3 separate regions of the Homo sapiens genome follow, and regions 1 and 3 are each linked to region 2. Evidence: fine-mapped expression QTL. A gene starts in region 2. Each other region holds a variant in brackets. All regions are shown on one strand. Distances are from middle to middle.

Region 1 (11,504 bases), 140 kb before region 2:
GCCATTATTACACATATAGAATTTTTTAAAAATTGCATTTTTTAGTTTGGTTAATTTTAAAGCTAAATATGGGATCTTAATACTGGATCTCTCTCCTTTTAAGAAATATAACCAAAAGGGTTTCTGCTCAACTTGACTATACATTTATTTTCATTGCATTTTGGTAATAACTGGAAATTTGGGTATATGTACCAATGATATATTAATTTTGAATGTCACATGCTATTTTGTCAATCTGGCCAAAAGAAAGCATTTCTTGGCATTGTTTCCTGATTACTTTGGGGGAAAACTGGCAAATATTGAAACAGCATTTCTGTATTTGAATAGTCTGAAAATTTAGAAATTTGATTTAAAAATTGAATATATTTTTATCTTTAGACTAGCAATGAAAATATTCTGCATTTTTGTCTTTTTTTTTTTTTGAGACGGAGTGTCGCTCTGTTGCCCAGGCTGGAGTGCAGTGGCAGGATCTCAGCTCACTGCAAGCTCCGCCTCCCAGGTTCATGCCATTCTCCTGCCTCAGCCTCCCAAGTAGCTGGGACTACAGGTGCCCTCCACCACGCCTGGCTAATTTTTTGTATTTTTAGTAGAGACAGAGTTTCAGTGTGTTAGCCAGGATGGTCTCGATCTCCTGACCTCGTGATCTGCCCACCTTGGCCTCCCAAAGTGCTGGGATTATAGGCGTGAGCCACCGTGCCCAGTCTCTATTATTTCTTTATTTTCTTTTTCTTCTTAATAGTTTACCTTTATTCTCCAACCTTTTTGGTGTTTTGGCTGTTTTTCTCTTCCTTTTTCATATTTAAAATATTCATTCCTCAAGCCCTGCTCTTCCCATTTTGCTCTATTCCAAACATACACTCTTGCTTTGACAGACCTCTTTGTTTGTCTGCTAATGTTTTTCATGTTCAGTGAAGCAGAAAAGCAAAACATCTTTTAAAAAACAGCACTGCTACATGGCTTACAGTTTCCAGGGGCTGGTCCACACCATTATGGGGCTCACAGTGTTCAGGAATGGAGGGCTGAGAGTGAGTCTGTCTTGCCTGGCCAACAACCCAGTGCCACAATTGCTTCTTGCTGGCACTAATGAATGTACAATGTACAATGTACAATGTTTTCTTCTTACCCAAAAATGTGGATTCCCCCAAGCACAAAAAAGAGAACAGTCTTCCTTTCCATAATAGTTCCAGAAAGAGGACTAGTTTCTCTGAAAAATCATTTTAGATAAAACTTCTAGTTTTAACATTTTAAAACAGGAGTTAGGGAATCAGCAAGAGAAATTACCCTGACCCACATAAACCTGAATTGGTTTATGTTCCTCTCTTAAGTTTATACAAATCTTTTTCCATTTTAAAACAATTTAAGAAAATCCACTGCCTGATATATTTTATGTCTACTTTTTCACCTCTTAAATTAGCTTCTATATCCTGAGTTGGTATTTGATCAAGGTAACCCTTCAAGGAGCATAAAGCCTGAGTGCTTCTCAAACTTTGGCGACAATAAAAATCACCTAGAAAACTTGTTAAAGCACACACTCACAGATTCCATTGTTGCAGAGAAGTAACTGTCTCTCATGGTCCACAGGACTTTCCAATTAAAATTATGTCTTCAAATTAACCTGTAAGCTATTTCATGTTGTGGAAAATTATAATTATTTGTCTGTTAGTAGCTATCCACTAAGATAATATGAAATCTATTGCACTTCCTCTCCCTGGGAATCCACTTTTGCCAGAATTTTATCCTCAAACTAGAGTTTTAGTTATTCCTCCTATTATGTCAGAGCAGAAAAAAATTTCAACTCTGTTTTCTTATAGAAGCTCCTAACATCACACATTTGAGCTATAGAAGGCTGACATTCTAAAAATTAACAGACTGCAGTTTGGGGCCCATATGAGATACCTGTTCCCTTATTTCTTTCATTTTTTCCAACCTCTTCAGTTTTCTGGCATATTCTTGAGCATCTTTTAATCCAAGATCTGTGCAGAGACGAACTAAGAAACGCAGACCTAAATTGTAAAATATACATTTAGGAAAGAATATAGGCACAGTATATTTGTTAAAAGCTCAATAAATCAGTGAACTCAGTCTTTTGGGATACAGGTAGGAATGATGCTTACAAATAGTATTTTTCTCCTGAAAAATAATTACACTTTGCAATCTCTGGACCAGGGAGAACTGACTTCCTTGGAAGGAGGTTTAAAGGGTCTCTCTCCATGTGTCCTGTCCTCACGCTGCCAGAACCTAGAAGGAACATGGCACAGGACACTGCTGGCAGAGAACTTAGAAGGCAAATGTAACATTTGTTAATGTTCTATAGCAGTTTCATAAATACATATAAAGAGCTATAAGAGAGACTAGGCTAAAAAGTGTAGACAGTTTATACATATAATAATCATTACTAATGTTATTACTGTCAGTAAATTCATTTTTAAATTAAGTATTATTCACACTGTGCAAAGCACTAGGAAGATAAAAAAGATGTATTTTACAGTGGCTGGTCTTACAGTTGACATCAAATATATACAAAATAATCACAATAAAAAGTTTTGTGTTAATCATGTCTTGTATACAATAACAACAACAAAATCTTCGATCACTTTATACATATCACCAGATGACATATTGTTTAGTTCTGCTTGCTATTGGGTCTTATAAAAATGGTATTGTTCTGTATACAGTCTCCTGGAATTTGCTTTTTCATTCAAGCTTGTGTTTCTAAAATTAGCAACATTTTAAAAACATGCAATAGATGCTAAAAAACACAATAATTTTGTCTTTACATTTGTAAGAATGGCCTTTGCCATTTGTGGTCTAAATTACTTTAAAATATTTTTATTATCTCATTTAAAAATAATATTTTCCTTCAATACAACTGCAATGCAGGTCATTATAGAGAATTTGTAAAACATACAAAGGTAAAAAACAAAAAATAAAAGTTACTCATTACTCATCCTTCCAGAGACATAGATGTTCATCAGGGATATTGGTCTAAAATTCTCTTTTTTTGTTGTGTCTCTGTGTGGCTTTGGTATCAGGATGATGCTGGCCTCATAAAATGAGTTAGGGAGTATTCCCTCTTTTTCTATTGACTGGAATAGTTTCAGAAGGAATGGTACCAGCTCCTCTTTGCACCTCTGGTAGAATTTGGCTGTGAATCTGTCTGGTCCTGGACTTTTTTTGGTCGGTAGGCCTTTTTTTTTTGTGGGTATCCTTTTTGTTGATGTTGATGCTATTCCTTTCTGTTTTTTAGTCTTCCTTCTAACAGACAAGCCCCTCAGCTGCAGGTCTGTTAGAGTTTGCTGGAGGTCTACTCCAGAACCTGTTTGCCTGGGTATCACCAGCAGAGGCTGCAGAACAGCAAATATTGCTGCCTGATCCTTCTTCTGGAAGCTTCGTCCCAGAATTAATCATTTTGGCTCTATTAAATATCTTTCAAATACATCTCCCGACATCATCCACCAACAACATCATTGCATTCTGCCTAAATTCCTGCTGTACGATTTAGGTAGGGCATTTGAAAATCTAGCTGTATCACATCCAGACTTGCAGCCAACCCTCCTGTTTTCAGAAGCAGCCAGCACCCCTCCCATTTTCTGATGCCTCCAATTCCCGGGATTTCCTGGGGTTCTATGTCAAGAATTGTTTTGCTTCTGCTGACGTCTCCACTACCTACATACCTCTGCAGTTCTTCTAATCTGCTAAGCAGAAAACATTCCTAAAATTTAATTATCTCTTTGTTCTTGTACATTTATAATTTTTTTTTTTTTTTAAGATGGAGTCTTGCTCTGTCACCTGGGCTGGAGTGCACTGGCGCAATATCAGCTCACTGCAACCTCTGCCTCCTGGGTTCAAGCAATTCTCCTGCCTCAGCCTCCTGAGTAGCTGGGATCACAGGTGCCCACCACTATGCCCAGCTAATTTTTTGTATTTTTAGTAGAGACAAGGGTTTCCTCATGTTGGTCAGGCTGGTCTTGAACTCCTGGCTCGTGATTCGCCCGTCTTGGCCTCCCAAAGTGCTGGGATTACAGGCGTGTGCCACCGCACCCAGCCGCATTTATAGTTTTTATAAACTGTCTTTTTTTGGTTTGTAGTATAAGAAAACACATCTTCAATCTGCTACATTTTCCACAATAGACTACCTTTTGAAATAGACTCTGCATCCCTCTAACTCTGCCCTTACTAATGCTACTGTCTACCTGCAGTGCCTGTTCCTGCCTTTCCTTCCTGGTAAAACCCTCCGTACCCTTCAAGGCCACTTCAAATGTTACTTCCTCTGTAAAACCTAATTATGTCAATCGTCCCCTAGTTTGGGCAGAGTTAAGAGATCCTCTGTATTTTGACAGCACTTTGCACATTTTTCAGTTATCTCATTTATTAACCTATATCAGTTAACTATTTGTGAGTCCTAGGAGGCAGAAATCAAGTTGATATATCTGTTGTATCCCCAGCACATAAAAAATAGTTGGTAAAAGTTCTGGGGAACAAATGAATGGATAAAGAAACAGGAAAGTCTTAAAGCTAGTGAACACTCCATTTTTTCAAAAGTATTACTGATAATATATATAATAACAGAGCACAAAAATATGTGCTAAATATACTGAAATAAATTTATATGAAGATGGCCCCCAACTTCTCCCTAAGTGCCTATTTAATACATCCTCTTGGACATCGAAAAGGTAGCTCAAACACAACATATCTAAAAAAAGGTTTTGATTTTTCCCTCCAAAAGCTGCTTCTTCCCCAGTTTCCTACATCTCAGTGGATGGCATCCTTCCAGCTCCCAGAGCTATATTTGTGCAATTACCCTTGACACTCTCTCCCTCAAGTCTCACATCTAAATGGCCAGCAAGTGCTGGCACTGATACCTTTGATACATATTCAGAATCCATCCTGCCCACCTCCACTGCTAAATCATTAGTCCAAGTGAATACTGTGATTTTGCATTTCGGTACTGCCCACTCCAGCTTATTCTCCATACAGCAGCCAAAACAATCTTTTGATTTGGACCTCAGGTACAGAAGCTTGAGTTAATCACACTTTAGAACCTTTTGAAAACATATGTCAAATTGTATTATTCTTCCACACAAAATCCTCCAATGGCTCATCATCTCCCCAGAAATATAATTTGAAGCCCTGACCTAAGGCCTGTGAGGATCCACAGGTCCTGGCCCACCCACTCTGCCTCTCTCTCCCCATCACATCGTCCACTGTGCTTCAACCACATTGACCTCCATATCGTCATGGCTTGCTTCTGTCTATTCTTTCAGGTCTCTGCTCAAATGCTAATTTAACAGAAAGCCGTTCCATGACAACCCTGTCTCAAATACCAGCCCCTCCCACATTCTCTAGCTCCTTACCTGTTTTGCCTTCATAGCACTTATAACTACTGACATTATTTGTTTATTGTCTTTTCCCACTAGAAACAAGTTCCACGACATCAAGGATTTTGGTCTCTTTTGTTTTCTGCTACATCCACAGTGCTAGAACAACGTCTGGAACAGAATAGTCACTCCACTCCACAATAATTTGTAAATATACCAGCAATTTAAGACCATTAAAGTAGACCAGGCGCGGTGGCTCACGCCTGTAATCCCAGCACTTTGGGAGGCTGAGGCGGGCAGATCATGAGGTCAGGAGTTCAAGACCAGCCTGGCCAAGATGGTGAAACCCCATCCCTACTAAAACTACAAAAATTAGCTGGGCATGGTGGCAGGCACCTGTAATCCCAGCTACTTGGGAGGCTGAGGCAGGAGAATCACTTGAACCTGGACAGCAGAGGTTGCAGTGAGCCGAGATCGCACCACTGCACTCTAGCCTGGGTGACAGAGTGAGACTGTGTCTCAAAAAAAAAAAAAGACCATAAAGTATTGTAAAAGTTAATAGTATAAAGTAACTTAAAATGTCACACATTACTATAAAAATTGCATTTGCATATACATTTATATTAATAATTCAGAATAAGAAGGTAATTTGTACTTTCTGCAAATAAAGATTGGCTTAGGAATTTTTTTTTTTTAAGAGATTTAGAGATGCCCAGGCTGGAGTGCACTGGCACAATCACAGCTCACTGCAGTTTGGAACTCCTGGGTTCAAGCGATCCTTCC[A/G]TCTCAGCCTCCCGAGCAGGTGGAACTATAGATGCACACCACCATGCCCTGATATTTTTTTCATATTTAGAAGAGTTGAGGTCTTGCCATGTTTCCCAGGCTGTTCTTGAATTCCTGGGCTCAAGCAATCCTCCGGCCTTGGTGTCCCAAAGTGTGGAGATTACAGACATGAGCCATCACGCACAGCCAGAAACACTTAATGTAAAGTAAAAATCATTATTTTTGGTGGATGTTCTCTGAAATTTAGTACATCATCTGTAACTCTGTAAAGCAGGTCAATTTTTGGTGAAGAATATGTTTTAAAACTAAATTATCCTGCTAGTTTTATCCAGAAAACTAGTCTTCTTAAAACAGCACATTCCATGGGTGTAAATGTTTTTTCTACAACTACAGTTAAGGTAGACTATTGATTACATTTGTTTTGAAAATTAAATAGGCCAAAGTTATCTTAGACACCCTCTATGGCATAGACAATCATTCATTTGATTCTTAGAGTGACTCATACTCTAAAGAAAAAAACCTGGCCTTCCTTGAAGACATTCGCTTTTCCGGTCCGGTGCAGAGGTGCTATGGTTACTTCAAGAGTTCTCAACTGGCATCAATTTTGCACCCCCAAGGGACACTGGCAATGTCTAGAGACATTTCTGGTTTTCATATCTAGGGGTGAGAGAGCTACTAGCTAATCTATTGGACAGAGGCCAGGGATTTTACCAAACATTCCATAATCCCCTGGATGGCCTCCCACAATGTGGAATTGCACAATCCCAAATGTCAAAGGTGCCAAGGCCGAGAAACTCTTGCCTAGCAGACTTTTGGGTTGTTCCACTTTCAAGAAAAGTTATTACTGCTATCTCTCATTTAATCTCTAAAGCACTAGTTCTCTAATGTGACTGAGATTAAGAATCACATAGAAAGTTCTTTAAACAGAAATAGGAAAAAACAGACGCCTGCATCCACTGTAAATCTAAATGAAAATCTTTCTAGGTAGGGCTAGAAATTTGTACTTTAAAAAAGTTCTAGGCCGGGCATGGTGGCTCACACCTGCAATCCTAGCAATTTGGGAGGCTGAAGCAAGAGAATCGCTTGAAGAGTGATTTTGTTTTTAGTAGAGCCCCCGTCTCTACTAAAAACAAAAATTAGTTGGGCATGGTGGCGTGTGCCTGTAATCCCAACTACTAGGGACACTGAAGCAGGAGAATCTCTTCAACCCAGGAGGCAGAGGTTGCAGTGAGCCAAGATGGCGCCACCGCACTCCAGCCTAGGAGACAAGAAGAAAACTCCATCTCAAAAAAAAAAAAAAATTCTAGAATTAATTCCCATGTAGCCTATTTCCTGACTGGTATTTGTGAAAACTACTGCTGTTAAGTTAATGAGTCTACTTCTAATCAGCATTGGAGAACACCCTGCTCCTACACTCCTACCAAAGACCATAACTGAGCTAACTGCTGTTGAGCTTTTTTAGAAAGCCAAATGGAGAAATATATTAATGAAGAAACACGTAGTACATCTAATCCTTGGCCATTAGAAAACTTGGCTCAGAAAAGATTTGTTTTTACTAAATTGTAATGCATTCTTTTGTGTTCATTGTCATTGAAGAACAAATTTATTTATTTATTTATTTATTTATTTATTTATTTTGAGACAGAATCTCGCTCTATTGGCCAGGCTGGTCTTCAACTCCTGACCTCAGGTGATCTGCCCACCTCAGCCTCCCAAAGTGCTGGGATTACAGGCGTGAGCCACTGTGCCCAGCCTTGAAGAACAAATTTTAACATGGTCGTTTCCAGCATATTATTTTATTTGCTATAGGGATGTTATTTAAGAAAGTATCTACTGTGTCTTTCAATGATTTTATCTACTGTATCTCTCAATGTCTAAACAGAAGTGAATTAAGAGTTGAAGAGATACTTCTTCTTCCCAATAAATTGCTTTATATTTCCACATAAAACAGTAAAAATTGTACAACTGCTTGTAACTTTTCTCTTTCCTTTGGCTGCAAGGCTATTCAGGGACAAATTTATAGTTTAGTGAGAACATGTGGCATATGACTGTGCTTACTTTATGTTTTTCTTGATTTTGTTGTTACTGCCATAATACTTCACATTATTACTGTAAGTTGCATCAATCCACTGTGCAACAAGATAGTAAATAAATGAATATCTTCTACAAAGATAACTTTACAACTGAGTACGCAGCATATTAACATAATGTTTTAAAATTGAAGTAACATTAAAAATTATTTGCCGCCAGGAGCAGTGGCTCACGCCTGTAATCCCAGCACTTTGGGAAGCCAAGGTAGGCGGATCACAACGTCAGGAGTTTGAGAACAGCCTGGCCAACATAGTAAAACCCGTCTCTACTAAAAATACAAAAATTAGCCAGGCACGGTGGTGCGCGCCTAGAGTCCCAGCTACTAGGGAGGCTGAGGCAGGAGAATCACTTGAACTCAGGAGGTGGAGGTTGTGGTGAGCTGAGATCACACCACTGCACTCTAGCCTGGGCAACAGAGCAAGACTCTGTCTAAAAAAAAATTATTTGCTATTGTATCAGCAAGATTATTAATGTTCAGTTTTTATAAACCCTAAAATTATTTTCTCAACCTTTAGAAGTTGTTTACTAAAATGGACAGTTAAAAATGTCTTTCCTATAAAATACCACAGGTTTACAAACTTTGAAAAATCAACCATAGGCCAAAATGCTTTCTTAAAATTCTATAGAACTCTGAAATATGTATTTTTTTAGTATTAAAGAAAATTCTGTGGTATATTTAAATCCATCAACAATTAGTTACATAAAAATATGTACTTGCATAGTCAAATTTTCTGATGCTATAAAAATATTTAAAATATGTATCACAAATTATAGGTTGGTATTTACGTATACAATTACTGTAGCAAAGGTAATTATATATTAGAACATAAAATATGAGAACTTATCACTTCAAAGTTACATTATGTAATGCCACTTACATTCGACATTTTCTGGAAATTTTCTGTGAGTATCTTTGTAAGTATCTAATGCTTTTTGGTAGTTACCTATAAACAAACAAGAGAAAAATATATTAGCAAATTATAGAAACTAACAGGATTCAGAAAAATATTAATTTTAACTGATATACTGGCTATTTAATGGTTTAATAGAAAGGTTTCATGTTTTATATACCACTTAATATAACTTTTAGAAGAAAATGTATAGATAAAATAAATTTGAAATAAGGCTGAAAGCAGAAGTAAATGGGTGATAGCTGAAATTTAGCTTCTTCCTTTTTTTTTTTTTTAAAGAGACGAGGTCTCACTCTGTTGCCCAGGCTGGAGTACAGTGGCTATTCACAGGCACAACCATTAAGTACTACAGCCTATAAACTCCTGAGCTGAAACAATCCTCGTGTCTTAGCCTCCAGAGTAGCTGGGACTATAGACGCACATTGCTGAGCCTGGTTCACTTTAAATATTTTAGTGGCAAAAATTAAGATCCATTCAATTTTCTAAAAAAGATTATTCCAGATGAACTGACAAATTTAAAAATAATCTAAGTTATATACTTACAGTAATGTCAATGTCATTCATTTAGTTGGAAAATATTTAAGATGTTTTTATAGTTTTTTTGGGCTGGGCGTGGTGGCTCACTCCTTTAATCCCAGCATTTTGGGAGGCTGAGGTGGGTGGACCACTTGAGGCCAGGAGTTTGAGACCAGCCTGGGCAACATGGTGAAACCCCTTCTCTACTAAAAATACAAAAATTAACTGGCCATGGTGGCACACACCTATAAACCCAGCTACTGGGGAGGCTGATACAGGAGAATCGCTTGAACCCAGGAGGTGGAAGTTGCAGTGAGCTGTGATTAGTGCCACTGCAGGCCAGCCTGGGTGACAGAGTAAAACTCTGTCTCAAAATGAATGAATGAATGAATGGATAAATAAATAAATAAATGTGTGGTTTTTTTTGTTTTTTTTTTTTTGAGATGGAGTCTTGTTCTGTCACCAGGCTGGAGTGAGTGCAGTGGCGCAATCTCGGCTCACTGCAACCTCCAACCTTCGCCTCCTGGCTTCAAGTGATTCTCCTGCCTCAGCCTCCCGAGTAGATGGGACTACAGGCGTGCACCACCAAGCCCAGCTAATTTTTGTATTATTAGTAGAGATGGGGTTTCACCATGTTGGCCAGGATGGTCTCGATCTCTTGACCTCGTGATCTGCCAGCCTCAGCCTCCCAAAGTGCTGGAATTACAGGCGTGAGCCACTGTGTCCGGCCTTTACAGTTTTTTAAACATTAGAAAGTTTATAGAAAGCAATTTATTTTATAACAAAATAATTTAGCTTCATGTAGCAGCCAAAATAGGAAAAACGAATTTGGGTCAAAGATCTTTCCTAAAATCTTAGCAAATGAGTTATAAATCTCTCTGGGCCTCTCTCTACAAGAGGGATGAAATAGAGACAGGAAGCATCTGACCCAAAGCCAGTTCTCAATGCTAGCTGCTGCTTCTATCCTGTACTTCCATAACTGAAGCAGGCTATGTCTTTAAATCATTTAGAATAGTTCATATGTATATATATACTTTCTATATGACTGACGTTGAAATGAACATAGGCAATTGAGAACTCATGTTGATATAAATTGAATGTATATAGTATAGTCATGTTGTACATTCAATAGGAATTACAGATCCCCCCTAAAATGATTTGAGGAATACACTGAGTTATGTATTAAAACATTTCTGATGCCATTCTGAAGGTGCTCACAGAGATAAAGAAGGAAACCTCCCCCGAAACTGGGTGAGAACAAACTGCCAACACTTTCAAAACTTGTGCTTCCCTCTTCCCTTAGATTGAATACTTTCTTTTCCTGGGTCATTTTTATGCTCTACAAGAGGGATTATAAATTTGTTCACATTTCTCTCCCAGCTTGATCTTTGATATTTTATGCATATTATTCACTTCACAGTTAGCCTAAAACTAATAGCATCTCTATCCTTCAGGATATGTGTCATCAGCAAGAATTTAATAAAAGCAGTAACAAAAACACAAACCAAGATAGCCAGTGATCTTTGGTATAAAAAACATATAGTCACACTTGTCTCAGTGTGAGCTTTTCTCAGGCTTCTCAAGTGTCATAAATTTGGCCGAGCACACAGGACATTTAGAATTAACTGAGTAGAAAATGGAAATATAATGTATACAGTATGCCTATTTTTTTCTGTGGCTAACTTGTGAAAATGATTACATGTTAACTTTGAGAAATAACAAATCTGTTTTTAAGACAAGTATTGGAATACATGATTAATACCCATTTTGTAAGCATAACTTTTTTGTATGTAGTAATTATTGTGTTTTTCATACAATGCTTTGAATTATGTACAGTTATAAAAAGTTAGTATTTTAATAAACAGATATGCAACTGGATCACATT
Region 2 (8,541 bases):
AACTGCAAGGGTCTGAGATTTTCACTAAATTGCAACAGAGGTTCTGCACTTGGATGCTGACAGAAGTCACGAGACTCCTGGATTAAAAATAAATTATCTTATTACAGTAAAAGCAATAGCCAGAGTGACACCATATTTATATGGGTTCTTGGATCCTTAATTCCCACAGGGTTACATAGAGGGCCAGATGACTCCTGTGTTTGCAACGAGCAAGGGCCCAGCACTTTTTGCTTTCTTTTTTTTTTTGAGATGATGTCTCGCTCTGTCGCCCAGGCTGGAGTGCAGTGGCGTGATCTTGGTTCACTGCAAGCTCTGCCTCCTGGGTTCACACCATTCTCCTGCCTCAGCCTCCCGAGTAGCTGGGACTACAGGCGCCTGCCACCACGCCTGGCTAATTTTTAGTAGAGACGGAGTTTCACCGTGTTAGCCAGGATGGTCTCGATCTCCTGACCTTGTGATCCGTCCGCCTCGGCCTTCCAAAGTGCTGGGATTACAGGCGTGAGCCACCGCGTCCAGCCACTTTTGCTTTCTTTTGAGACAAAGTCTTGTTCTGTTAGCCAGGCTGGAGTAGAGTGGCAAAATCATAGCTCACTGCAGCCTTGAACTCCAGGGCTCAAGAGATCCTCCTGAGTAGCTGGGACTACAGGAATGCACCACCACACCTGGCTAATTTAAATAAATCTGTATTTTTTTTGTTTGGTACCAGAAGGATTAAAGTTATAAATATATGTACACATAAATAAATAAATATATAAACACACACACACACACACACACACACACATATATATACACACACACTAGAGATGCGGGGGGGGGGGTTCTCACTATCTCGCACAGGCTGGTCTCAAACTCCTGGCTTCAAGCAATCCTCCTGCCTCAGCCTACTGAGTAGCTGAGACTACAGGCGGCACCAGCCTGGATAAGTTTTTTAATTTTTTGGTAGAGACAGGGGTCTCGCTTTGTTGCCCAGGCTGGTCTTGAACTCCTGGCCTCAAGCTATTATTTACTACTCAGCTTCCCAAAGCGCTGGGATTTCAGGCATGACTTTGCAGGGAGCAGCAAACAAGCCAGTCTGCTGCCCCCATAGCCTCCGGTAGTGAGCAGTCACAGGATGCTCACTCCCTGGGTGCCTTGATTATTATATTGGCTGCCTGTGTAACTGACTACAGAAACTGCTCCATCAGAAGATGGAAGCTTTGGAGCCTTGTATTCTCAGCCAGAGCAGGCGCGGTTGCTCAGGCTAGCGGCTGTCTCAACAATGTACTGTAACATTCCCTCCAAAAAGTCCTCAACATTTAAGCTTGCCTTCTACTGTGTGTAAGTTGCATGTCCGAAACACTCCATTACGGATATGGGAATATAATCAATCCATGTGACTTAGCCAATCTGATGAGTGAGAGATGACTTATCTTCCTTGTGTTACTTTTCATTTCTCTTGAGGTTGAATACTTTACAAATATTTATCGATAATTTGTGAAACTGTTCTTTAAAAAACAAAACAAAACAAAAAAACCTAACCCCTCCCCTGAGATTTCTCTTTCCACGTTCCTGACTCAGGGGAAACAAAGGAAGACTTCCTTTTATCATCTCAGTGTTGGCTGCGGTTCCAGCTTGAGTACTGTCTCCTCTGTCTAATGACTGTGTCATTTCCCGTTCAGCTTGTGCTGTGTGGACGCACACCACTGTCAGGCAATGTGTGATGCCCCTTCCTCTTGGTCTGTTCCGGGCTCCAAGAAGGCCAGGAGTCAGGGCACGAGGGCATTTCCTTTTTCTGATACATAAACCGAGTGCAGAGTGTGCTCCGTGGAGGAATTCAGACGTGTCCTTCCGTAGCGCAGATGAACGCATCAGGTGTTCTCTTTCACTGCTGTCGCAGTCCCTGCGCCCAGTTCGCAGTTGGCGGCAGCGGCAGGCGTCTTTCAGAGACGAATTAGCAAAGGGGACATTCTCTGACAGTTTCTCTAGGGTGCTTTAGCGCTAGAGCCCGTGCCAGCCTGCCCGTGTCCCCTCCTATAGACACGGACTTCACGGTGAATGCTGACAGTCACAAGCGCGTGGTCTTCCCGCTTTCCACCCCCCGACGTGCCCCCGCGCTGGTCCTGCCCCTGCCCACGAGGGTCGGCGCGCCGTGTGTCTCCCGGTGTCTCGGGCCCGCGGCGCGCACCCCACTCAGGGACCAAGCGGCCCTCCCCGCCCTCCCGGTCCGCGCGCGCAGCCAATGGGCGCGGGACCCGCCCTCCCCGGAGCCCAGAGCTCGCAGCTCCGCCGGCGCCTGGTCCCAGCGCCCGCGGCGCCGCGTCCCCGGCCCAACCATGGCGTCCTCCGCGGCCGGCTGCGTGGTGATCGTTGGCAGGTAAAGGGCTCCGAGCCGCGCTGCTGCCCCTGGAGCCCGGGGAGACGCCGGGGACGTGGTGCCCTCGCGTGGGGCCCTCGGGGTGGGCGCCGGGTCGCTGTCCCCGCCCCGGCCTCCGGTCCTCCGAAGCCCTGCGCCCTGCGGCCCCTACGGCGCTGGCGGGCTCGGGGAGAGGCGCGGCTGGAGGGGCTTGGCAGGTGGAGGCGCCCCGCGGAGTTGGGTCTGCTTCCCGGGAGCCAGCGTTGCAGGAGGTTCCGAGGTTGACCGCCCAGGCCGCGGGGCCTGCGGTTCCTGGACTCTGTTGAATGTCGCCGCGTCTGCCCGCAGGTCCACATAGAAGTGCCAGGCACCGTGTTGAATGAAACGAATTCTGGCTGCGATCCTGCGACGACTGTGTTCTCATCCCCATTTTACGAATGAGAATACTGAGACTAAGCAGTTTACCTAAGGTCACAGGCGTTTAGTGACGGAGACAGGACTAGCCCAGCAGGGAGGGTGCCAGCGCAGTCCTGTCGGCGACGATGTCGCTGGAGGCCGCAGCAGGTGTTAGGCGAACATACACGCAGTCCTAATTCCTGGGCGAGGCGATGTTTCCAGAGGGGAGGTGGGGGCCGATGGAGCCCAGAGAGTTTGCTAAGTGTGTCCATTTAACAGCTTAAATTCTGCCCAAACTGATTTTTAGTGTGTGCTTCCCCCACCCCGCCCCCCACCCCTACGGTTACAATCCTTGCTATTTTTGTTTTTTAAAAAGGGGCATTTGTATGTACCTTTCTTTGGCCAGCTGTTAGCAGCAATCTATAAACATGTTAATACTTGCTATTGATAGTTAAAAGCACCTTTTTGGTGACTGCTGTTGAGGTGTTGGCCTGCCCCCGACTCCGCCCCCCATCAGTGTACAACCCGGTGTGGAGACCACTTCCAATGTCAGGGTGTTTCCTTCCCACTGAAGGAAGGCATCAGATTCCTTGTTGTCAGCTTTCTTTTCTCCAGAGCAGTGGAGTTAACTGTGCCTTTGTTCTTTCTGGCCCATGAGTGCCCGTGGTTGAATAGTGAAGGCATATTAAAAAGTGCACTTTGGGCCGCGCGCGGTGGCTCACCCCTGTAATCCCAGCACGTTGGGAGGCCGAGGCAGGCGGATCATCTGAGGTCGGGAGTTCGAGACCAGCCTGACCAATATGGAGAAACTCCGTCTCTACTAAAAATACAAAATTAGCCGGGCGTAGTGGCACATGCCTGTAGTCCCAGCTACTCGGGAGGCTGAGGCAGGAGAATCCTTTGAACCCGGGAGGCGGAGGTTGCGGTGAGCCGAGATGGTGCCATTGCACTCCAGTCTGGGCAATAAGAGCGAAACTCCGTCTGAAAAAAAAAAAGTGCACTTTGTACCAGTGGTGGTAGTTACCTCTGTCTTGCATTTTATTAATAGTTACCAGAGTTTATGTGTGTGTGTATATATATACACTCACACATATATATACACACACAGTTTTTACACGCATGCGTGCGCGCACGCGCACACACACACAATTTTAATAGGATAGGGTCTCGCTCTGTCGCCCAGGCTGGAGTGCAGTGGCACTATCATGGTGGATCTCCACCTTCCGGGCTCAAGCCATCCTCCCACAGCAGGCATGTGTCACCATACCCGGCTGATTTTTAAAATTTTTAGGTAGAGATGGGGTCTCACCATCTTGCCCTGGTTGGTCTTGAACTCCTGGGTGCAAGCGCTTTGGCCTCCCAAAGTGTTGGGGTTACAGTTGTGAGCCACCTTGCTTGGCCTTGTATAGGTCCATCATGCCTTGGAGTAGTGTTATGCATGCACCTAATACATGTGAAGTAAAGTTTTAGTTGATTGTGCAGTTATCTGGCTGTGGGTGGCTCAGTCTACTGAGGAGGAGCTTCAGTTAACAGTTTACTTCTGATTCCTTGAGGGATGTTGATAAGGAATTAGAGAAAGGCTTCCAAACTTTAAGGACCACATAATTCTCTGGGGCCTCTGCTTGTTTCTTTGTTTTCTGGTGTGAAAATCTTGTCTTTCCCCCACCCTCAGCACTTCAGCACACACCCAGCTCTGCCTCTGGGACAGTGCTGGTTTCTTCCCTTCCTCTTTACCACCCTTCTTTCTCGTCCCTCTATTTCTTTCCTGGCCCCACAGGTGATTCCAAGGAACACCCACTTAACAAATAGGGCTTGGGGAATGTCAATTAATTTGCCAAAACCTGGTTCAGTTTCATTCTTAGGTTTCAACAGACCAAAATATACATATTTCAATTTCAGGAGCATATTGTGTTTTCAGCTTTCCTTATCAGTTTATAGATTTCATCTTGAAAGTACCTGCTAGGAATACAGTCCCACTTAATTCTTTTCCGCTGATCTTTTTCCAAAGTTCACTCTTCCTTAGGGCCACTTAGCTGTCCTATAAACATCCAGGGCAAGTCCCTTCAGAATGGGGAGGGCTTGAAAGAGGATGAGAGAAACTCTTTTGGGCCTAGGGCTGCAGGAAAATCTGGTAGTGATAACTTTTAAAAATGGGAGTAGAAGTCCAGGCATGGTGGCTCATGCCTGTAATCTCAGCACTTTGGGAGGCCTAGGAGGGCAGATCACCTGAGGTCAGGGGTTCGAGACCAGTCTGGCCAACATGGCGAGATCCCGTCTCTACTAAAAATACAAAAATTAGCCGGGCGTGGTGGTGCATGCCTGTAATCCCAGCTACTCAGGAGGCTGAGTCAGGAGAATCGCTTGAACTCAGGAGGCGGAGGTTTCAGTGAGCCAAGATCACACCACTGCACTCCAGCTGGGGGATAGAGTGAGACTCCATCTCAAAAAAAAAAAAAAAAAAAAAAAAGTAGAAATGGGTATCATGAAGATAAATTTGCATTGGAGTAGTGTTCTAAGGCTTTCATTTTGTTAGCCTTACCTTTATAAAACACTGTGTTTCTAAATCGCTAAAATATGAGTTCTGTATTTGTATACACACTGCAAGATTCAGCTTGTAGCCCTTGAGCTTGTTTAGAATAGGAACACAAAATGTTCCTGGTGCAGGGCATGCCCTTTCTCCTGTCCTGCTTTTTAGGGGGCACACTCTTTCAGGATCAAGCTCAGGGACTGTCTCCTCCAGGAAAAGTTCTGCTTCTGGGCCTTTCCCCTAAGGATAGAAACTGTATTGTTGCCATTTGTATCCACCATGCGTGGTCCCAATAGACAGATAGTTGAGCGTTTGTAACAGAGACTGCTTATTTTTTAACTGATGTGCCCTATGAAGGGCTTGGTAGGACGTTGTTTTATATCAAGAAAAACATCCCATAAACTAGAAAGGCAAGAAAGAAAGGTATCCTATAAACTACAGTCTCCTTCATTTTTTTTAATTCCAAAATTTTGTTTGGGGTGATTGTACTTTTTTTTTTTGAGACGGATTCTTGCTCTGTCAGGCTCAGGCTGAAGTGCAGTGGCACCATCTCAGCTCACTGCAACCTCTGCCTTCTGGATTCAAGCAATTCTCCTGCCTCAGCCTCCCAAGTAGTTGGGACTACAGGCACGAACCACCATTGCTGGCTAATTTTCGTATTTTTAGTAGAGACAGGGTTTCTCCATGTTGCCCAGGCTGGTCTCGAACTCCTGGCCTCAACTGATCCGCCCACCCTAGCCTCCCAAAGTGCTGAGATTACAGGCGTGAGCCACTACACCTGGCCTGTGCATTTTTTATAAGAAACTTTCTGAGGCATGAATTTTCTTTGAAGTGCTATTCTAGGTATTTTCCTGCTAATTTTTGTACACATACACAGCAAACCCTAGGATGCCCTCCTTGCCTTTTGAGTCAGCTTAGACACTAAATGTGCCCTTCGCAGGAGTTACTTAATAGCTCTTTCTGGCAAAATTTCCATAGTAGACTGAGATCATGAGTGTAGGAACAGTTTTACTTCAATTTTTACCCAGTAAATAAGTAACTGTAGCTGGAAAGATACTTTCAAATGTATCTAAAGTGAATTTATTCAAAATTAAGTGACATTAATGATAGAATTGAAGCAATTATATCACTTTTCTCCCCTGCTGCTTTGCTACTGTGTAACAGAATAAATGTTCATCTGCATTCACCTTTTGTAGTACCCATTAAGATTCATGAATTCAGAAGCTTTAAGACATGTCGCAATAGTCACAGTGGGAAGGGCATTGAATTACCTCTATCGCTGGCTCCCATTTTGAGGTCCCCAGGCATATAGTGGTTGGAAAAAAGGCCAATAAGATGTCACAAGCTCTCAGGACAGGAAGTTAATTATTCTTGGGCCTGATGTAAGGTAGTATTGGGGAACAATACTGAGGGAAACCTGAAACAGAAACCTGAGGAAAACCAAGCCAGGGAACTTTCTAGCTCTGGGGCCGTGCAATCTGGTCCCTGTGCCTCTCTGTAGCTTCCTTTGCTCTGTAGATTCCCTCTCCTTGTACTTGCTCACTTTTCTTTCCTTCCCTGTGACTTTATCTTGCACATCACTGCCAACCCTAAGGTTATCCTCTTTCAAGTATAGTGCCTCTTACTGATTTTTTTTCTGTATTTTGGGTCCAATTTATTTCCTTTCTTTCTTTCTTTTTTTCGTTCGTTCGTTCCTTCCTTCCTTTCTTCCTTCTTTCTTTCTTTCCTTTTTTTTTTTTTTTTTTTTTTGAGACGGAGTCTCGCTCTTTCACCCAGGCTGGAGTGCAGTGGCGTGATCTCCGCTCACTGCAACCTCCGCCTCCGGGTTCACGGGATTCTCCTGCCTCAGCCTCCCGAGTAGCTGGGACTACAGGCCCCTGCCACCACGCCTGGCTAATTATTTATATTTTAGTAGAGATGGGGTTTCACCGTGTTAGACAGGATGGTCTCGATCTCCTGACCTCGTTATCCACCCACCTCGGCCTCCCAAAGTGCTGGGATTACAGGCGTGAGCCACCGTGCCCGGCCCGGGTCCAATTTTCAAGAGAGGAAACCCAGTGGTTTCACCTCTGTGCATCCCAGGCTGCAGATGTTATAGGGTGCTCCTAAGCCAGTTGATTGGCTGCTTTGGGTCAGGTGTCCAATCCATGTCCAATCAGCAATGACTGAGTGTGTGGGCGTGAAGGGGTGGGGGAAAAGACACCAGCTGGTCCCCAGGGGTCAGCGGTCTGCTGTTGGTCCTCTGCAATGAAGGGGCCAATCTCAAGACTGAAAGGGAAGTGGGGCCCAGTCCAATCACCTGATATTTGATGCCAGAATCCTGGCCGATGGTTACCCTCCCTCAGGTCAGATAATTGCGATTCCAAGGATTTGCTGCCTGTTTGATTAGGGGGCTGCCTTTCCCTGAGCAACAGCAGCGGGGTAAGACCCAAGCCATGGAGGCAGGTGCATTAGCCCCAGACCAAAGCACCATGCTCCCTCCCTCATGATTGCTTCCCCTCTCCAGGGTTCAGACCCCGCAGCCAGCAAACATATAGTTGTTCCCTGAAAACAGAAAAGCACCCTCTCTTGACCCCATTTTTCCCTCTGGTAATTGCCACATTGCTCCTCAAAACTTAATAAACTTATCCATATTGTCTCCAGTTTCTTTCTTCCTATCCATATTCTCTCTCTTAACTTTGTGTTAGGGAAACATTTCAAACTGTGTTAAAGTTGAGAGAACAGTGCAATGAACCTTAAAGTACCTTCCCCCACCCCCTCAACTTCAACAATTATTAACACATGGCTAATATGGTTTCAGTTATTCTCCCTTCTCTGGATTGTTCTGAAACAAATGCCAGGCATTGAATCATTTCGTCTGTAAATATGTCAGCATGTATAGTATCTAAAAGATATGGACTGTTTTAAAACTATATAACCACAATAGCATCATCATGTGTAAAACATTAACACAATTCCTTAATATCTTCATGTAATATCTTTAAATATCTCTTCCATATTCAAGAGTTCCCTGATTAATTTTTTAAATACTTGGCTTGATTGATTTAGGGTCTAAATAAGGCCCACATGTTATATTTAGTCAATAAGATTCTTAGCTCTTTCAATCTATAGATTGTTCATCCCTCTCTGGTTTTGTAAAATTTTTCTTGCCGTTTATCTACTGAAGAATTTGAGTCATTTGCCCTGTAAAATTTCCCATATTCTAGGTTTTGCTGAATGTATCCCTTCCCTCCCCTCCCCTCCCCTTCCCTTCCCAAGATGGGGTCTCGCTATGTTGCCCAGG
Region 3 (10,037 bases), 42 kb after region 2:
ATTTCCTAGCAGTAACAATTGTAAAGTCATCCCCTAGGAATAATTCATCTATCCATGTTAAATTTCTTTGTCTCCCCATCCCATTTTTTTGATAGTTTATCATATGATTTCTATAAACATCCAAAACTACCCTAACTGAATTAGTTCTGGTTAATGTGTCTCCCTCAAAGAGTATATTGTTTTTTATAAAGTGGTGAACCCTCCATAATATGAGAACATTATAATAGACTTGGGTAATAAGGCAAGTTTTTCTGTTAAAGAGTAATTTGGGGGGAATATGTGAATTTAGAAGGCATGTAAAGCACTTACATAGTACTTGGCACACAGAAAATGCTCAGGAAATGGTAATTATTTTATAATGTGGCCATTTATAACAATTTTGGTAATAAAGAATGACATGGGGCAGTATATGGCGTTCTGTACATGGTTGGCACTAGTGAAAACTGCTCTTTAACTACAGTCTATCTTTATTTTATAGATTAAATGAGTGTATTTACAAGGCATGACATGTTGAGCCATATCTATTATGTAGAACACAGAGCCAAGCCGGATGAGGAGAGGAAACTAGAGAAAGATGATGTAAACTAGTAGGTTTAATTCCTATGAGAGTTTATATTCTTCAGAAATTGTTGTACCTCCAGTACCAGAGAAAGGAGTGGGTAGGAATAGTTCTGACCGGGAGGCTTCGGGAAGGTTTAATGCAGGTAGGATTAGAGCTTGTCTTGACTTTTGACAAGTGGATTTTGGGGTGGGGGTGGGAGGATTGTGTGGGAGGAAGAGATGAATGAGATGAGAAGTCCCTTTGAGGATGTTTCTAAGGCCACGTTACAGACCCATTGGAAAGGTAGGAAAGGCTGGTCCAAGGTGGAAACCAAGTCGCCATGCTACGAATGCCAACCTGAAGAATTACTTAGGTGAATTGAGTAATACACAGTGCTTAGAGGAGTACACGAAGAGAAGCACCATTTATGTGTTTCTTTAAAGAAATAAAGATGAAGGCTGGGTGTGGTGGCTCACGCCTGTAATCCCAGCACTCTTGGGAGGCTGAGGGTGGCGGATTGCTCGAGCTCAGGAGTTCAAGACCAGCCTGGCCAATATGGTGAGACCTCATCTCTACTGAAAATACAAAAACTTAGCCGGGTGTGGTGGCATGTGCCTGTGGTCCCAACTACTTGGGAGGCTGAGGTGGGAGGATTTCCTGAGTCTGGGAGGTGGAGGTTGCAGTGGGCCGAGATCAGGCCACTGCACTCCAGCCTGGGCAACTGGAGTAAGACTCCATCTCAAAAAACAAACAAACAAACAAAATATTATGAGACCTGAAGAAAAAATAATTATAAAAAAAATAAAGAACTAAAGGGTTTGGATTTCAATCTAAGTCCTGATTAGAATCCTGCAAGGAAGGTATTTAGTAGGAGAATGAAATGAATCAGAAGGAAAGATGAGTAAGAAAAAAGAATCAGCAGTTCATTTTTGCCAGTTAACTGATTTTCTTGGGCATGTTTACACATTTCTTTTCTTTTCTTTTCTTTTCTATCTTTCTTTTTTCTTTGAGATGGAGTCTGGCTCTGTTGTCCAGGCTGGAGTGCAGTGGCGTGATCTCAGCTCCCTGCAACCTCCACCTCCTGGGCTCAAGGGATTCTCATGCCTCAGCCTCCTGAGTAGCTGGGATTACAGGCATGTGCCACCACACATGGCTAATTTTTTGTGTACATTTTTTAATAGAGATGGGGTTTCACCATGTTGGCCCGGCTGCTCTCTAACTCCTGACCTCAAGTGATCCACCTGCCTCCACCTCCCAAAGTCCTGGGATTACAGGCATGAACCATTGCGCCCAGCCTACACATTTCTTTATATGATGTAAAGCAAATTTAATCCTCTGAATTTTAAAACTAGTGCATAGGCTGGGCGTGGTGGTCCACACCTGTAATCCCAGCACTTTGGGAGGCCAATGTGGGCAGACTGCCTGAGCTCAGTAGTTCAAGACCAGCTTGGGCAACATGGTGAAACCCCATCTCTACTAAAAATACAAAACATTAGCCAGGCGTGGTGGTGTATGCCTGTAATTCCAGCTACTTGAGAGGCTGAGGCATGAGAATCACTTGAACCCAGGAGGTAAAGGTTGCAGTGAGCCGAGATGGAGCCACTGCACTCCAGCCTGGGCGACAGAGTGAGACCTTGTCTCAACAACAACAACAACAACAACAAAACCTAGTGCATATTAGTGTCTCAGGTTTACCAAACAAACAAGTAAATGAAACCCCCAGAGTGAAACCTACCTAATGCTGCCCCACATGTTTGTTAAAGTACATTAGTGTTTCTAACACAATGTAATGTTAAACATGTATCTTACCTAATTAAACATCTCTGTGTTGTAAAGAAAGTTTAGGACAATCCTGTTTAGGTTCATTATTCCAAAAATACTGAAGATTTTTGTGTATTTATATGTTTCCACTTCTCCTGTTTATTTTCTCTCTTTCTAATACATTTGAGATTATACTGTAAATAGAATTTTGCATCATGGTTTTTATTTAAAACTTAGAACATTTCCTGCTGTACGATGTGCTCGGGGCTGTATCAGAGAGAAGTGGCACAATCTTGGCTCACTGCAACCTCTGCCTCCTGGGTTCAAGCGATTATCGTGCCTCAGCCTCCCAATTAGCTGGGATTACATGCATCTGCCACTACACCCAGCTGATTTTTGTATTTTTAGTAGAAACAGGGTTTCACTATGTTGGCCAGGCTGGTCTCGAACTCCTGACCTCAAGTGAGACATATAATTTTTAGACTTAAAAAATTGTGATAGTCACCATTTGATGGCAAACCTGAAAGAAGCTTCCGTCTAAGAATTCCATTAAAGCTGAGGTTCCCAAAGTCCGCAGCCTCTGCCGGGCTGCAACCACTCATCTGCTGGCAACCACTCACCCGCCCTGTGGTGCTGCCTCATCTCAGGGTCCACAGACTTTTTGCCAGTGGCACCCTCTTAGCAGCTCTCACAGCTCCTTTTTCTGATTTATACAAGGGAAGGTTCTCAGTGTAGAAAAATCAATCTAGGCTACTTGGAGACAGTTTTCTTTTTTTAAAAAAAATTAATTGCTGTATTTTGGCCAGGCGCGGTGGCTCACGCCTGTAATCCCAGCACTTTGGGAGGCCAAGGCGGGCAGATCACGATGTCAGGAGATGGAGACCATCCTGGCTAACACGGTGAAATGCTGTCTCTACTAAAAATACAAAAAATTAGCCAGGTGTGGTGGTGGGCACCTGTAGTCCCAGCTACCCGGGAGGCTGAGGCAGGGGAATCACTTGAACCTGCGAGGTGGAGGTTGCAGTGAGCCAAGATCGCGCCACTGCACTCCAGCCTGGCGACAGAGCGAGAAGAGGGCTGGATGTGGTGGCTCATGCCTGCGATCCCAGAACATGGGGAGGCCACAGCGGGTGGATTACTTGAGCTCAGGAGTTCGAGACCAACCTGAGCAACATGGTGAAACCCCGTCTCTACCAAAAATACAAAAAATTAGCATGGCATGGTGGTGCATGCCTGTGGTCCCAGCTGCTTGGGAGGCTGAGGTGGGAGGATCACTTGAGCCCAGGAGGTGGAGGTTGCAGTAAGCTGAGATCCCGCCACTGTACTCCAGCCTGGGTGATAGAGTGAGACCCTGTCTCAAAAACAAACAGACAAACCAAAATAAAAGAAAGACTGTACAGAGCTCTTTTAGAATGATGATGTGGTACGTTACAGTCCAAGTGAGAAAGCTGACTTCATGTTGATGATATGGTCAGTCCAGATGGCGTGAACCCAGGAGGCGGAGCTTGCAGTGAGCCGAGATCGCACCACTGCCCTCCAGCCTGCGCGACAGAGTGAGACTCCGTCTTAAAAAAATAATAATAAATAAAAAATTACTTGCTGTATCTTAATTGTACATATTTGGGATTCATGTGTGATTGATTTGTGTGTTCAGTGTGTCATGGTAAAATCCCGGTGTATTAGGATATCCAGAACCTCACACGTTTATCTTTTATTGTGTTGGGAACACTATAAATCTTCTATTTTGAAATATATAACATTATTAACTCTAATTTCCCTACTGTATTATTGAATGCTAGACCTTGCTCCTTCTAGCGAACTGTATTTTGTACTCATTAACCAGCTTCTCTTCATCGCTCCTTCCCCTTCCTGGTAACTGCCGGCTGCGGGTGTCCACCATTCTACTCTCTACCTCCATGAGACCCACTGCTTTAGCTCCCCTACATGAGTGAGAACATGGGATCTTCGCCTTTCTGTGCCTGGCTTACTTCGCTTAATATAATGATCTCCAATGCCATCTATGTTGCTACAGTTTTCTTATAAAATATGTTGCTGTGGTTTTCTTATAAAAAGAAAATTATTACTATTTAGGGAATTGTTCACAAGCAGGAGGCAGAGTTTGAGGAGACGCGTGTGTGCGTGCGCACACACACGCGCGCACACACACACACACACAGACTGCTTGCCACAATGCTTCAACTAAAAATAATCCCACTGTCGGATCTGCCCAGCCCCAGGGGGCGAAGCCCAGTAATGGGAGTGTGGTTTTCCCCAGTGGATTGTTTTCTACCCAACCCTAGAGGGCGGGGAGCCTGGGTCAGGACGTTTCCTAATACTCTGCTGAAATCCGGGAGCACGCAAGAAAGAAACCTGAATTTCTAGAACTTAGTGCAATTTTGAAATCAAATCTTGCCTGGCAAGAAAACCTACTGTTCTGGAAAAATAAGTTTACTCTGAAAAGCTGGTCTCAAGCCTTGACTTTTAAAGCACATTAAAGCTCATTAGCCACTATGTCGAGGCCTTATCTAATCTCTGGAACTTAAAACCGGAGATCACAGTAGCTGGTGGGAGCCATGGGAATGATTTATAGAGTTACGAAGTTTAAATGGGGTTTCCTTACACAAAGTCAGAACAATCTGCAATAGCTGAAATCGAGAAGTTAAATGGATATTGTCTATGTAGATGATCAGAATTTGCATCTCAACTATATCTTTAAAATGGAGAGAATGCTAATCATTTTGAAAAGGACCTTCAGACACTGTCAGTAATTACAGGAAGTAGCGTTCTTTTGGAAATTTATTTGTTTTCTTAAAGGATTGTTGGACTTTCAGTCTTGGTTCACTGAGACTCAGAATATTTCTTCTTTTGGTAGAGATGGGTGTGGGGGTGGGGGGTTCAGGCAGCATTGGACACATGGGATGGCCAGCCCTGAGAATATTCGGGAATGTGCGAGGAAACTGGAGTTACACTTTTTCTGTTGTATGTGTTTTTTCTTTTTCCTTTCGAGATGGAGTCGCACCTTTGTCACCCAGGCTGGAGTGCAGTGGTGCGATCTTGATTCACTGCAACCTCTGCTTCCCGGGTTAAAGCAATTCTCCTACCTCAGCCTCCCAAGTAGCTGGGATTATAGGCGCCCACCACCATGCCGGGCTAAGTTTTGTATTTTTAGTAGAGACGGGGTTTCATCATGTTGGCCAGGCTGGTCTTGAACTCCTGACCTCAGGTGATCTGCCCGCTTCGGCCTCCCAAAGTGCTGGAATTACAGGAGTGAGCCACCACGCATGGCCATACGTGTTTTTTTCTTTAAAAACTGTAAAATCAGGTTTACAAAGATATAATTTCCATACAAGAAAATTCACTCGTTTCAGGGTTCAGTGCTATGTGTCTGACAGATGCGTACAGTCACGTATGAAATCAGCGTCACAGCTGGGGTTCAGAGCATAGAGCCTCTCCTTCCCTTTGCAGCTAATTTCCTCCCACCGTTCCCCAGGCCTTGCCCACCACTGATCTGTTCTTTGTCCCTATAGTTTTGCCTTCTCCAGAATGTTATGTAAAATGGAATCATACATGATGCAGCCTTTTGAGTTTGGTTTCTTTCACAGAGTAAAATGAATTTGACGTGGCTTGTGTGGTTGTGTTGATTGGTAATTTGTTGCTGAGTGGTATGACATTACTAAGGTGCGTGGGACTCTGGATGGACTGGGGCAAGCCCACCTCACACACTCACGAGATCATCTGGAAGCACGAGCCTTCAGTTTTCACTTGCGAAGTGTGAAAACATTCTGTCCTAATGTTCTACTAGCTTCCTGCCACAGCCCTTACTTTTCTGATGGCTTGCTCTTGCTTTATTCAAATAGTGTGCTTACAGAACTGGGCACGAGGTCTTATTTCTGTGAAGCTGTATTTTTATTTATTTGCTTGGCTTTTTTTTTGTAGTATGTATAGCTTCAAAGATATAATATGAGCAAGTAATGAAAAATGTTATACATTCAAGAGACAGGCAAGTTTTTCTCTTAATCTGTAATTATGTATTTATCTTCTTCTGTGACCAAATAGGACTTGAAAAAATGCTAAGTCAAAACATAAGAAGGACAGTAAAATAAAGTCTTAGAAGAGGAGGGCATCCTCATTGCATTCAGTGTGCCTGCAGGTGAGGACTAAACATGGCCAGCATTGTGGGTCCCCGCAGCATCCACGAACGGCAGGTTATTGGCATGATTTGCGCTGGCAGGCCCTGCAGTGATGGACGAGGCAGTGACCTGCCTGTGTCTCAGACATCGTGGGACCTGCAGGAGCATTAGGAAAGTACTCCACCATGATTTGTTCTCTTTGGCCTCTACCTTGTGGGGTGGAGTATGAAGTTATGTGTGCTGGAGCAGAATGTTAGAAGGCAACAGGCTTTGATCTTTGCCAGGAAGCCTGGCTCAAGGTCAGCGTTAGCCTGAATTTCTACTTTACCTTTCAGTTTGGGCATTTTGGCTTTTCCCCCTTCACAACCACCTGCCAATGGAAGACGGTAATTTTTTTTTTTTTGAGACAGAGTTTCATTCTTGTCACCCAGGCTGGATTGTTGGCTCACTGATCTTGGCTTACTGCAACCTCTGCCTCCTGGGTTCAAGTGATTCTCCTGCCTCAGCCTCCCAAGTAGCTAGGATTACAGGTGCCCACTGCTACACCCGGATAATTTTTATATTTTTAGTAGAGACAGGGTTTCACCATGCTGGCCAAGCTGGTCTCAAACTCACCTCAGGTC[C/T]GCCTGCCTTGGCCTCCCAAAGTGCTGGGATTATAGACATGAGCCACCATGCCTGGCCGTGCATTTTTTCAAAGAAGTAAATGTTTCTTCTTCATAATGTCTTTAAGTCTGGAAGGCTGGGATCTAGCTGTGTTGCGATTTTGACTTAGGTGTTAGGGAGTGGATGGGGAGGTCACCTGGTGTGTTCTTGCAGCAGTGTAGGAAAATGTAGTTCTTGGTAACAGCTTGGTCCATGACTTCTTGATGAACTGTGTGCCGTGGGAGAGCGCAGGGGCAGCCCCAGCATCCCTGTCTCAACACTGACATACTCAATGCTCTGTCCCCAGGGCTGGGCCAGCCAGTTTTCCTTCCAGGGTTCTTTAGGACAGAAACCCTCCCTTTAAAAAATATTATCTATAAATATTAACAAAGTTTGCATGCTACAAAGAGGAAGACATGCCTAATTCAATTCCTCTAATACCCATTTGTGACATTTTAATATATTTACCTCCAGCCTTTTTTCCACATATAATATTTATAATTGTAATGATAGTGTGTCTTTATAGATACAGTGTCATATTCTACTTATATTAATCAACATTTAACACTTTCTAGTGGCTGTGTAAGAGTCTGTCAAGTGGATGTATCAACTAAGTCAAATATCACCTAGAAAATAATGATCTTATGGCTACTTCCAGTACTGTGCGATTGTAAGTTAAACTTGGTTGATCATCCCTCTATCTCATTCTTCCATGCTTTTTGTGACTTTCTTCAGGGCAAGTTCATTCATAGGGAATTACTAGATGTAAGCCCCTTTCCAGCTCTTGATAACATTTTGCTGAGTGGCATTGTAAAAATTGCCAGTACACCTTCAGGAGTCATGTGTTAGCACAGTTGGATTTCAAGCTTGCCAGTGTTGGGTCTGCTGATCTTTAAAGTGATTATTAAAGTGTTACTTGAAAACATTGTCCCAGTTTGCAACAACCAATGTGGCATCATCCCAACATCCACATTCTTAATTTGGTTCCTAAAATAGTTTTAACCCTAAATTTCCTCTAAACTTAAACGGAATCTCAAATCCCTATTTAAAAGAAAGATGGCCAGGCGCGGTGGCTCACACCTGTAATCCTTTACAGGTGTAAAGGGAGGCCTTACAGACTTGGGGAGGCCGAGGTCGGGGGATCATCAGGTCAGGAGATTGAGACCATCCTGGCCAACATGGTGAAACCCCGTCTCTACTAAAATACAAAAAAAAAAAAAAATTAGCTGGGCTTGGTGTGGCGCATGCCTGTAGTCCCAGCTACCTGGGAGGCTGAGGCAGGGGAATCACTTGAACCTGGGAGGCGGAGGTTGCAGCAAGCCAAGATCGCGCCACTGCACTCCAGCCTGGCAACAGAGCGAGAAGAGGGCTGGATGTGGTGGCTCATGCCTGTGATCCCAGAACATGGGGAGGCCACAGCGGGTAGATTGCTTGAGCTCAGGAGTTCGAGACCAGCCTGAGCAACATGGTGAAACACCGTCTCTACCAAAAATACAAAAAATTAGTATGGCATGGTGGTGCATGCCTGTGATCCCAGCTGCTTGGGAGGCTGAGGTGGGAGGATCACTTGAGCCCAGGAGGTGGAGGTTGCAGTAAGCTGAGATTCTGCCACTGTACTCCAGCCTGGGTGATAGAGTAAGACCCTGTTTCAAAAACAAACAAACAAACCCAAATAAAAGAAAGACTGTACAGAGCTCTTTTGGAAGGATGATGTGGTATATTATAGTGCAAGTGAGAAAGTTGACTTCATGTTGATGATATAGTCAGTCTAGATGGAAACCAAATTGTCCCTTCTGCTTTAAAAGTTGTAGGTTGTTAAATTAATGCCCAAAGTCAAAATAAGCACATATCTAATAGAAACAATTTTATAAAGTCTGTTAAGTAGAAAATATAAATATAAGCTAAGAAAATACTTTTTGATCTTATCACTAGGTTAAAAACATGATAAGCCCATTCAAAAGTGGTCATGGCATACATATTTAATGCTTGGAAACTAGTAAACACTTTAGCAACTATAATATTTGCTTCTAGTCATTTTTTCTAGAGTATTTTACTTTCTGCTGTTAGCAATGGGAGATGGTTATTTATGAAGACTGTTGGATACTGTGTGCTACACAGAATACACCATGGAGCCTGCCCATATATATTTTTATATACATATATATATATATAACTACGTAATATATATATTATAAAATGATAATATATAATATACTGTAATATATACTATAATACATATGGTAGTATTTATAGTATAGTATTATATATTATCATATAATATATATTATACTATCTATATACTATAGTATATTATATTTTAGTATAATATATAATAGAATACATAATGGAATATTATATATTATCTATTATACAATTATATATTATCTAGTATACAAAATAATATATAATATAAAAATAATTTTTTAAAATTTATTATATATATTTTTAATATATTTTTAAAAATATTTTTATATATTTAATTTTAAACATTATTAAATGATAATATGTAATATTAAATACACCATGGAGCCTGCCTGTATATATACCTACTGTGTGTCAATCTCTTACTATGGGCCAGGTCCTGTGCCGCCCATTTTATGCAAAATGACCCACTTCAGTCCTCAGGACGCCCATGTAAAGTGGGTGCTAGTATTTATTCCATGCCATGCCCGCTCTCCAACCCCAATCATTGTTGCCTGCACACCTCAGGAATATTTTTGATTGTTTTACCTACTGCTATTTCTCCAACACCTAAAACAGTGCCTAGTTTATACAAATATTATATATATATATAAATTAATTACTTAAGATTTTTAGAGTCAAGGTCTTGCTCTGCTGCCCAGGTTGGAATGTAGCTGTGTGATCATAGCTCACTGACGTCTTGAACTCCTGGGCTCAAGCGATCCTCCCACCTCAGTCTCCCGAGTAGCTAGGACTACAGGCATGTGTCACCACACCCAGGT

Evidence for each region. PIP is the estimated chance that this variant, and not a neighbour inherited with it, causes the effect.
Region 1: its variant is fine-mapped to the expression of CRYL1 in whole blood (TOPMed, PIP 0.96).
Region 3: its variant is fine-mapped to the expression of CRYL1 in whole blood (TOPMed, PIP above 0.99).

The regions. Positions count from the first base shown.
Region 1 is chr13:20,653,997-20,665,500 of GRCh38, reverse strand. IFT88 (intraflagellar transport 88) reads right to left here. Exons shown (of 26, transcript NM_006531.5): 22 at 9,071-9,136; 23 at 1,897-2,003. Among named protein-coding and RNA genes, the nearest start is that of IL17D, 44 kb to the left of the region's middle. The variant A/G (reference allele first, on the strand shown) is at 6,102.
Region 2 is chr13:20,519,569-20,528,109 of GRCh38, reverse strand. CRYL1 (crystallin lambda 1) reads left to right here and starts at 2,253. Exons shown (of 8, transcript NM_015974.3): 1 at 2,253-2,356. The coding sequence starts at 2,316. RefSeq lists an enhancer at 1,738-1,847 and a silencer at 2,028-2,577.
Region 3 is chr13:20,477,181-20,487,217 of GRCh38, reverse strand. The region is part of intron 3 of CRYL1 (crystallin lambda 1); the gene reads left to right. Among named protein-coding and RNA genes, the nearest start is that of CRYL1, 44 kb to the left of the region's middle. The variant C/T (reference allele first, on the strand shown) is at 7,056.